Homo sapiens: one gene and its partners. The protein of the gene in region 1 interacts with the protein of each later gene in a biochemical or structural test. Each region holds a gene or a part of one and is shown on either strand. Other genes may lie near its edges.

Region 1 (3,750 bases):
GCAGAGAGGCAGAGAAAGCAGGCACACAATGTTTAGGGCCAGCGTCTGGGCTCCATTTGATCAGGTCAGCATTTATTAGTAGGAAGCAGTAACATTTACAACTGGTCCTCGGGCAGGAACCGGGAGGGCCACCACCCGCGGCCGCCCACGCGAGCCCAGCCTTCAGGGGAGAGAGCAGCGCGTCCAATGCACTGAGGACAAACCCCAACCCGCCCGAGGCCCTGGGCTCCTCTAAGCCTCACTGGAGATCTCCACCGAGGTCCCGCGTGCTCCCTGAGGAAAGGGGGCTTTCGCAACTGGTGGGCAACCCCGCCGGGCTTCACCGTGGGCTAGCAGCCGGGGTGTCCGCACTGTTGTCGCTCTGCCTTCATTCTTGGAATTGGGGCGCACTTGGCCCCTGTTTGGGCAGTGCTGGGGGTGAGGGGACTAAACTACAGCACTTTTCAGAAACATGGGGGACATTTACACAAGAGAGGGCTCCCCAAGCCAGCTTGCACTCACAAAATATAGCATTTCTTAAGGAACCAATGGAGCAGGAAAGAGAGGGAGTGGGATAGGGCGAAACCCCAAAGCCACTTGGTTTTTCCAACACGTAAACGAGCAAATACAGAGTCCCCCAAATACCTCAGAGACCAACCACACAGTCACTTCTATCTAAAAAGAAAAAAAAAAAGAAGAAGAAGTCCAAGTCGCTGGAGAGTTTCTGGAAATCAAGCACCAAACACCCACAAAGGAAAACAGCAACAACAACAAATCCGCTGCCCTTGAGCGCTCCCGCCAGCACCGCGCCGGGTCAGTCTCCTTTGGGGCATTTCTCCTTGCTCATCTTTTTCATTTTCATCCTACGGTTCTGAAACCAGATTTTGACCTGTCTCTCTGTTAGGTTGAGAATCCTGGCCACCTCGTAGCGCCGGTCCCGGGTGAGGTACATGTTGAAGAGGAATTCTTTCTCCAGCTCAAGCGTCTGGTATTTGGTGTAGGGACAGCGCTTTTTCCGGGTGGAGCGAGCGTGGATCCAGTTCGCGGCGGGGTTGTCTACAAAGAGGGAGGTTTGGAGACGGGGAGAGAGGAGAGGAGGGGAGGCAGGGAGAGACCACAGGGTGGGGAAGAGAGGTCGTTAAATTAATTTCACCAAGGATGGTCGCTTTTCACAACTTGTGGGGAATTATCATAAAAAGCCTTAATGCTCGCGCTCTGTTTACCGTACTAACTGAGCGCCCAGGGTAGGTGGTTATGGGAAGCTCTTTTTATGGATGCATGTTGTTCGCCTAGGCTTGGGTAGGCGTCTAGACGTTTTTATAGGTTAGTAAAACTATCAGTTTTGCACATTCGAGCCTTACAGGTTTCAGCAATAAATCAGGGGGCAATTTCTTTTGCACTTACTTGGGTCAAGTTGCTGCTGCTGCGGCTGCGAATGCTGCTTCTCCTCCTCCTTCAGCGAACAGCCTGGGATCGGGTGGTCGCTGCAAGCTGAGGGCTCCGACGAGCCGCCCGTCCCAGTCGCGGCCCCGATCCCTGCCCCAGGCCCGGTTCCCCCCGTCGCCGCTGCCGCCTTCTCCTGCAGGAACGAGTTGCACGAGAACTCGGGGCCGCTGCTCCCCTGGGACTCCCGGGCCACGGAGCACTCAGTCCGTTTGGAGGAGGAGGATAAGGAAGTGGAGGAGGAGGAGGTGGTGGAGGCGGCCGTGGCGGGGGCCGGGGCCGCTCGGGTTTCAGGCTTAATCCCGTAGTGGCGCCCGTTGGCTGGGCCGCTGGGGCCAGGGCTGGGACCGCGGCCCGGACCGCCGCCTCCACCACCACCGCCACCGCCCGCACCGCCCGGGAAGCCGGGCAGCGGCTCCATCCAGGAGCGCACGTAGCGGCCGGGCTCGGAGGCAGAGGCGGCCAGGGGCGGCGGGGGAACGTACGGGTGGTAGAGGCCGCTCATCGCCGCCGCTGCCGGGGGCTGGGAGGGCACCGCGGACCACGAGGCAGAGAACACGGCCGATCTGGGGGCAAAACTACACGAGGCGAACTCGGCGGCGGTGGCGGCCGGGCCATCAGCCACACCTGCAGGCCGGCCCTGCGCGCCTGGCCCCGGCGGCCCGAAGCGCGCCGCGAACACCTCGTCGCCCTCATGGCCTATAAGCGAGTCCACGTAGTAGTTGCTGAGGGTGCCACTGGAAGACATTTTGAGGCGTCCCGCACTCCCACCCAACATTACACTGTCCGCCGCCGAGCAGCTCCCCGCCGGCGCCCGAGCCACCGACTAGTTCGCAGGCTGCAGCCTCCACCATTGGTCGCGCGGCCCACGTGATCATATTTACCAATACCGGGAGTAAATCAGTCCGCTAAACTGGGGGCTGCTGTGATTAAAAAAAAAATCATCAACATAAGCGCCGCAATTAGAGCCCGCAGGCCCAGGTCCATGTGCCCGGCTCGGCCCGGCCCGACCTGGCCTGGCCCGCCCAGCGGCTGCCAGGACCACAGACGCGACCGCATCCAGAGGAGGCGCTGGGGACTATTTGTTCGCTTCTTCTTGCAGCCCTCGGTCCCGCAGTCGGGCCCCGTCGCTGACTCTCCAGCTTCCGAGCCGCGGGCGGCGAGTCCAGGGCACACGGAGCGGCCGCGGGGGCGCCAGGCCGGTGTCGCCCGAGGCAGGCGGGCCCTCGGGGCGGCCCCTAGCGCCCGAGGGGAGCTGTTCTCCCCTCGCCTCTCTCCCTACTCACACCCACCCCTCCCCACACATCCCCACACACACGCTTGCTCACAGCTTGTCGTGTTGTTTAAAACAGGTGGAAGACCTCTGTAATGATATTATGCCTTTCAATAAAAATTTTATGAGGTGTATTTGATTATAGATTAATGTGTCCCTAATAAAACGGACGGATGGAGCAGATCGGAGGGCCCCCTCCCCCTGCCACACTCACACACGCCCGCGCGGCCACACACACCCCGACGTGAGGCTGGGCACACGCCGCGGCCCGAGGGGCGAGCCGGGGCGCGGCGGTGGAGGACACAGAGGGGCTTCTGCCTGCCCTCGGAAGGGCGGGCGGCCGGGCGAGTTGGCGCAGCACGGACAGTGGCGGCCAGGGTGCTTCGTCTTCTCCGATGATGCTGGAAAGGCCCTGGAAGAGAACACGCCACAGGGCAGAACCCAAATGCTAGAGCAGCTTGCTCCCGCCCGCCGCCTCAGCCCTGCCTCAGCGAGTCTCCCCGGGCAGGGCCGCTTCGCGCGGTTCGCACTTAAAGGCCTCGGAGGAGACTCCCAAAATGTCTAAAAAATTCGGCCGAATGGCTAGGTCCTTGGGACACTCCCTTCTGATTTTTTTCCCCCTACAGAGGTGAGGTTGAGCAGCCTTGAATCTGAGGGAAATGCCCATTGTCACTCCCAAATCCATGGTACAAAGCCTCGGAAGCCCGGCTGGGAGCCCAGACAAAAGCGGCCGGGGCGCCGGCAGCGGAGGGCATATTCCTTGCTCTACAAGTTGCCCAGCTCACCCTTGGAGGGCTCCCGGCCCACCTCCAGCCCCGAAAAGGAAGCGGGTAAATGGCTATTTATGGCCTGATTGATTACCTTTGCCAATAGCTTTCTGATTTTGTTCCAGATGGGATGCCTTTGCCTTGTAGCTCAGGCTTTCCTCGGATACATGGCCCGCTATCAACAGCTAATGGTATTCCCCACATGATCGGAGAAACGGCTAAATAAAAATTACCCTCCTCCTGCCCAACCGGTGTTAAGTCTGGGGCAAAGCTATTACAACGTTTTCA
Region 2 (3,650 bases), about 110 Mb from region 1:
TAGGAATGCTTCAAATAAAATATAATTTTTCTTGTAATAGAGAGAAAGCATCAAGTTTAGTAAAGGAAAAACCCCTGACATAGTTTCTTAATTAAAAAACAATTACTGTGTAAATCAAATAAGGTAATGCTAAATTAATAGTAAATTAGAATTGTATTACACTAATAATTCAGGCAGTTTCTAAAATTCATGCTAGGTAAACCTAGCATTTTTCACACTGAAAAATCACCTGCTAACATATTCCTCTATATTGGATCCTATTTTTCTATTGATTTTTATTATAACATTTACACTCTTTATTCTAGAAAATATTTTGGCTCTGTGACATAATGAAATTTAAAAAGTTAGTATTTCTTTTTTAAAATGCCATGTTTAATAAGAAAAAATAAAAATTTAACCCATATAACTGTTCAAAATAAGTTACAAGGTACAAATGGAAAGTAGGTATTTTTTGCCTTGGCATCAAAGTCAAAAAGGAAAACAACAAAGGACAAGACCCATTACACTAAAAAGTAGCTTAGCTCGGTCAACCGTTCTCTTAGAAACCGACAGGTTGATCTGGGCCCAAACGGAAGAGCTATAGCAGCCAGGCTTAGAAATGAGGTAAAAAAAAAATACACCCAAGAGCACATTCACTGGGTTAAATAAGCCACTGGAGAGCCAACTACACGACCCAAAGAACCTGAAACTTTGGTAAGACAAGTTTCCTGCACATAGCCTCAGGTTCATTTCCATGGCTTCATGAATTTCTGTATTTCTCATTTCTGTTATTAGGTCCTACATAAAAAAATAATTCTCTAGTTCAATTTCAGTTATTTCTGTCTAATCTATAGTAGGTATGTTGCAACTAATCAACTGTTTTTAACAGCTCCCTCAGCAGACCCATCTCTCTCCTGTGAAAAAAAGAAAAGAAAAGCATTCCTCAATTTTTTTTTTTCAATTGCCTTAACTTGTACTGAGATGAAGTTTAGAAAGTTTGTTGGGTGAGGAACAAACTAATTCCAACATTTCTACTATTATTACAGAATATGCTATAAATGCAAAACTTTTGCAAAACTTTTCTGATTCTAAACTTTTATTCATTAAAAATCTGTAATTTTATTATATTTAAAATCTATCTGTTTCATTAAAAGTTTAACAGAAACATATCTTGTGTTCACTTGGAAAAGATCATGAAAACCCACCACTCCAAAGCCATTGTTGTATCAGTGAAGAAAATGCTATGTTCTCTGACTGGGCCAAGGTCATGTACCCTGGCATGGAACTACTGGGGTCTGTGCTGTTCCAGACCCCTACATCTGTAAATCAGCACTCCTTCCACCCAACCAAACTCTTTATTTGCATAACCAAGTATTTTATGAGAAGTCCCCTTGGATTTGCCTAATAAATTCTTTGAAAGTCCAGTATTTAAACAGCCTTTTTATTCAGAGAAGCAGTTTACCATATAAAATAACAATTCATTAAAGAAACATGAGAAAAGAAAACAACTCAACAGCATTTAAATTTTCAATGGGCTAATCCACTTTCAATATGCAAAAGGTAACCAAGGAAAAGACACATACGACCTGATCATTGATTAAAAATGAAAAGCTTATAACCTTACAATACTGTTTTCACCACCTCCCCATGATTATTTTCCACCTTTAAAAAAAATAGCCTTTTTATCCACCTCAAACCCCTTCAGATTAATTTAGCAAGCAATGCATAGTGCCTGCCTAGAAGAGAATTCATTGATAATTTATGGAAATATCTACTATAATCCAGCAGAGATGACTTTTTTCCAGCTTTGTGCATCAATAGATAATCAAGGCCTTAAAGCAACCTTAGCTTCCCATTACCTCAGGCAAAAGAATTCCTGAAAGCGTGCCTTGAGGGCACCTGAATTATATACTCCATTAGGAGAGGAAGGCTTTCTGCATTCCATGTGTAACACTCACCAGAACCTTTCCTGTTTATTTCTGCTGTATGAAAGCAGAAGCATTAGGAACAGAATTTTTTAAGTGAAGACTTATGTAGATACAATGGAGAAACCTTTCAAGCAGGAGCCAGATCACCCCCTTCAGTCCCTGGCAGTGACCTCTCCTGAATAAAAGGTTTCTATTACATCATTAGCTCAAGCCAAAAACAGCCTTGGCTTAATGCACAGTTTGTTCTTCCTACTGTTTTTAGGCAAATACAGCTACTTTACTCCCATCTGGGAGGGAAATTACACTGCTGGGTTGTAATCTAAGACAAGATTTTCATTGGAAGCAAATGCTTTCAATCCAGTGTAAATACTGGTGCATGTTCAGAAAAGCCTAAAACAATAAACCCTGCTCCTTTCCGACACAAGTTAGGGAAATGGAGAAGATGGGGAAGGAGAAGAGCATAATAAAACAGACTATTCTAAAAGCAAACACTTTCATAGATTTTAATAAATTGTTTAACCTCTTCCACTTTCTAAAATTGAAAATTGATCTGGAAATGTCTCAACCTCAGAGGAAAGTCTAAATGGTCAATTGTACCTTTAGCATTTCCATTCACTCCGCAATTTGATATAGTCACCTCAATGTGGTCTCTCGAGAATTTCTTTCCTTTTTTACTTTTGAGATCACTAAACAAACTTGGAGAACCGCCGGCCGACCACACGGCAGCAGGCAGCAGCTCTGAACCACATTTGTAAAATGTCAGCAGTGACTTCATTCCTGGAGCTGACTTCTCCTGCCGCCAAATGAAGGCAAACTGAAAAGGTGGAAATAATCATAAAAATGATGCTAGTCCATAAACAAGCTTACAGCCTCATTAGGATAGCAGTAGGCTCCAGTGGGTGATTTATGCTCGTTTTGCTGATGCTATGAGGAAATGCCATAGGGCGACTTTAGCCAACCGCTAATGGTTTCTGACAGCTTCTTAGCAACTAGTGCAAGCAACGTTGTGGCGTTTGCTAGTGACAGAAACTGAAAATGTCATATTATCTGCCCATGTGTCATGAAGTCCGTGTGGCAATTAACTAGCAGGCCAGTGACTGAGGGGCCAGAGGCTCCTGAAAATGGCCTTTGGCTATGCAGAGGCAGCGGCCGGGGCTGCGCACACACAGGCCGCACATATGCAACATTCTAATGCAGAAATCCTCTCCCTGCAACTTCCTGGGCTCTGATGAGACCGGGCCACTCCAGTCTCTTTTTTCCCCCTCATTGAAGTGAAACTCTGGGTTCCTCTCTCTCTAGGCACAGGCTCGGGCATTATAAGACTCTAAAGCAATCTGCTTTGATACGATTATCGGAATGGCTCCTTAATTGGCAATACCTGGTTCTGTGCCTCTTGGATGCTGGACTCAAAGGTGCTAGCTACAGTACTTTGCTACTCTCTCACAAATTAGTCTAAAAGGATTTAAGATCACTGGAGCAGACTCATTGCCTGTCAGATTTCAAGGAGCAGAGGAACTCTGCACAGCAACAAGACACTATTTAAAAAAACACCAGGTTTCTAACGAGCAGGGGGAGAATCTTGGCCACACTTTTCAGTTTCCGAGCTATCAAAACCATGCACTATATGTCAAACTGTCAAACCTTTCAGCGTGGGCCATTTGCCCTTTCAAATAATATTTAAGAATTGTTTTTACAAAATTTTATAGGCCATGGTCTAGTGAAAGAGGCCAACCAACAAAGAAA
Region 3 (3,650 bases), on another chromosome or scaffold:
AGTTATCTGAGAAAAAAAATCTCCTTACCTTTTTTCTTCTTTTCCTATCCCATAAATCAAAAAGCAACCATAATTATGACTGATTCCTATGAATAGTGAAAGTTATGTCAAGAAAAACATAAATTTCAAAGTGAAACTAGATATGCAGTGATCCTGAAATACACCCAAAAGTGTCCTTCCTCCTCCAGTTTACCTCTTTTTCTGTAGACATCAGTGTTTACAATAAATAAAGCATTTTCTTATTGAATTTTTTTCTTTTTTGTTTAATATTGTGGTGGTACAGACTGATTTTTTTTTAAAAAAGAAAGGCTTGGCATTTCTGCTGTAGTATAAACTGTATAAGCCTTTCAGTGCTATCCTTATAAGATGTTTTAAGTTTGTTAATGCGTTTAAAAAATTAAGTATAGTTTTGCAACAGTTTTCTTTATCTGCCGTCGTTGGGAGTTAAATATCAATGATATGTAAGCTGTGGTACATGTGGGATCAACTCCCCCTTCCCTCACCAGATTCATAGTTTGTTTTGTAATTATATAAAAACATCGACATTTTAGTTCAAAATCATATCTGGAATGTGGGATATAAAACTTTCCTTCCCCGGGCAGGAATTATGGGGGTAAAACTTGAATTTAACTGTGTCTCCACTTGTGTCTGGCAGAGGTCTTGGTATGAAGGGAGCAGAGGTACCAGATCAAGCCAAGACACCTGCTGCGAACCACATGAAGGAAATAAATTAACAAATGAAAGTAAATTAGGTTTATTGTGTCTGCTGGCTTTAACATTTAAACCCTAGAATTCAAGGGGATAATCATTTGTATGCTACAGTTTTTCCTTATGTAGATAACACTAAGCTTTACACAAAATAGTCAGTGAAATCTGGTAGATTGAATTATATTGATCCTAAGGTCTATAGTGAAATACAGCTAAGAATCTCAGTCCACATTAAAGTTATGTAACTTCTAAAAATTTGCAATTAATCTATCACACGAAAGCACCTATATGGACATTTAAAGATCTGTGTATCTTGATGGCATCAAGCCAGCTTTCACATTGATAAACGCTAGGGGCATTTCTCCTGAAATGTTAGGTATATTTTAGTGTCATAACTGAAGATGTAAGCAAATTTAAAATGCTTGCTCTAAATTAAAAGGGTTCTAGCTTAAATGAGCAGCTCCTTTATAGGAAGATTTTTGTCACAGTGGTTTCGCTAAATTTCAGTTATATTAAACAAGAGAATCGCATTTTATGTAGTTGTCCTTTTGAAGCTCTTACTTCAGATCTTTTTACTGATGTTGCCAAATTATTATAGGATAAGACCAATTAGCTTACCTCTTCACCTCTCCCATAAAGCCTTTTTTTTCTTCTGCAATGTTTCTGAAGGATGAAATGTGAACTTTCTCATCTTCTCTTAAACTACTCTAGGTATCAAACTGGTTTGGAAATAAGCGAATCCGGTACAAGAAGAACATAGGTAAATTTCAAGAGGAAGCCAATATTTATGCTGCCAAAACAGCTGTCACTGCTACCAATGTGTCAGCCCATGGAAGCCAAGCTAACTCGCCCTCAACTCCCAACTCGGCTGGTTAGTTTTTTCTTTGATTGGGGGTGGGGGAAGGAATTGTTCTCCATTTTTATACTGGCTGTTCCTACATTGGGATTTTCTTTTAATTTGTTAGGCTTTTGATTGGTTAATTTCTGTATTTGATTGTATTTTTGGATGTTAATGTCACTTTGGGCTCTTTCTTTCATTTCCAAAGAGCAATCTGTTAGACTTTTTACAACGTGGGTTGTCTGGAGGTTTGCATTAATTTGTCTATTAAGTTAAGACCAAAGTAAATTGGTTAGCTTGAAGAGACCTCTAAATTCTCCTCTCAGGGATATCAATAAGTAAGTTAGACATAGTGCTTAGAGATAGTCTATTGGGATTCTGTCATTTGGCCTGTTTTATATAAAGCTTTTATCCTTGTCAGTTTTGCTGTTCCAACAACATAATGTCTGGGTCACTTATTAGCATGCATTCTATGCAGAAATATTTACTCTTCTAGCAAATATCTTATTAGAATGCTTTGGTATGCAAAGCCAGGCTATGAATATTTCTATATATTGTTTATAGTTGTTGTTCTTTATTGTTTTTTGTTGGTCTTCTTTATGATTATCGGTCATGAGCTATGTAATAGGCTTTGTTTCAGGAAATATGCATTATATCACTAATTTAAGAGTTTAGGTCAAAATACTATATTTTGGGGTGTGCCTTGTGTCATCAGTTCAGAATTTCTACATGTGAAAAAATGTAGTTAATAATGCAAAAAATATAACCTTTGTGTTTGTATGCTATGGAAGGCATGTGGTAATTTTTTTTTCCCTTTGGTAAAGGAAAGACAAGTATTTTCTCATTAAATAAGTTTGGTTTGACTTTGATTAGGGTGCACAGCTAAGAAAACTGATGATTCTAACTTAAAAGGTTACCAATTTAAATATGTTTGATCGTAATATGATTACAAACCTAATGTCTAACATTTTTTAGAGTATGTGGTATCTTTGACCACAAAGCTTGTTTGTCCACTAAAATAAGTTTTCTTACAGCGACTCGTTACTGGAGAAATGTAGGGTTCCACAGACTGATGTCTTCTGTGAGCTTCCAGATGCATAAATTTGTTATGATAAGGTCCTCCAAGTCACTGGGCTATACCCAGCACTTCTTTTGTGGCCTTCTTTTATCTAAATGGAATCATGCATGAAGAGTAGCCTGGGCTTTTTCAACATGGATATAATAAAACAATGTAGAATTCAATCCAGTTTTAATTTTCCCAGCACTGCAGGTTAGATTCCTATGAGGAGCATATTTACTTTTTTAGAAATATTTTGTTTTTTTCTTCCTCCATCATGGTGTGATTGACAAGGGATCAAAGCTAACAGGTTCAATAACCAGAGAGAGTTCCATCTTCTCCATCTGGTCAATTATTAAGAATTTCAGACCCAACAACACCAGTTGAACTGTGCTGCTAGGCAGACATTTTCACTTGTCTCTTTGGAAGAAGTACAATTCTGTCAACATTAGCAAAAATGCACTCAACACTCCTGCAAAGGTTATCATAATGCAAAACGATATCAAAATGACTTTTTCCTGTCCCTGGTATATCTGCATCGCAGATGGCTTAGCATGATTTATGACTAGTCCTTAGAAAAGCCCTGTGGACTTTCTTCATTACTAAATTTGTAACTATTTATTCTTTCCTAAAGCCCTTAAAAGAGAAAAATAAGCATTTTAACCCTCTATTCTGTGTTTAAGAAATATGGTTGCCTCTTATGGAATGTCAGACTATGATTACAGTTTTCTAAGGAATTTTTTTCTGGTGGCTTAAACATCATGTGACTATTCTGAGCACAAAGTAAATTATTATGGAAAATTTGAGCTAAGCCTTCCAATTGTGCGTAAGTTGTTGGAAATAATCTGCACAGGAACCCCTTTGTAGTGCTTTTTCTAAAGTAGAGGCAAAAGAAAATACTATTGTATGTGTGCAATAGCATGGAATTTTAAAAGATAAACATTTTAACAGGAAAAGTTATAAATGGGCTTTTCTGTATTTTCTTTTGCTCTTAACCAACCTAAATCATCCACACAGGTAAAGTAGAACTTTAAAATGTTCAAACTT

The links.
Region 2: the proteins of HOXD9 (region 1) and MEIS1 form a complex in vitro, tested with the Homo sapiens proteins (one study listed by BioGRID).
Region 3: the proteins of HOXD9 (region 1) and PBX1 form a complex in vitro, tested with the Homo sapiens proteins (one study listed by BioGRID).

Annotation. Positions count from the first base shown.
Region 1 is NC_000002.12:176,121,219-176,124,968, reverse strand, and holds HOXD9 (homeobox protein Hox-D9), read right to left. Parts: upstream 2,251-3,750; 5' UTR 2,201-2,250; coding exon 1,384-2,200; intron 1,036-1,383; coding exon 794-1,035; 3' UTR 32-793; downstream 1-31. UniProt on the Homo sapiens protein: Sequence-specific transcription factor which is part of a developmental regulatory system that provides cells with specific positional identities on the anterior-posterior axis.
Region 2 is NC_000002.12:66,507,978-66,511,627, reverse strand, and holds part of MEIS1 (homeobox protein Meis1), read right to left. Parts: intron 1-3,650. UniProt on the Homo sapiens protein: Acts as a transcriptional regulator of PAX6. Acts as a transcriptional activator of PF4 in complex with PBX1 or PBX2. Required for hematopoiesis, megakaryocyte lineage development and vascular patterning.
Region 3 is NC_000001.11:164,810,571-164,814,220, forward strand, and holds part of PBX1 (pre-B-cell leukemia transcription factor 1), read left to right. Parts: intron 1-1,419; coding exon 1,420-1,579; intron 1,580-3,650. UniProt on the Homo sapiens protein: Transcription factor which binds the DNA sequence 5'-TGATTGAT-3' as part of a heterodimer with HOX proteins such as HOXA1, HOXA5, HOXB7 and HOXB8. Binds to the DNA sequence 5'-TGATTGAC-3' in complex with a nuclear factor which is not a class I HOX protein.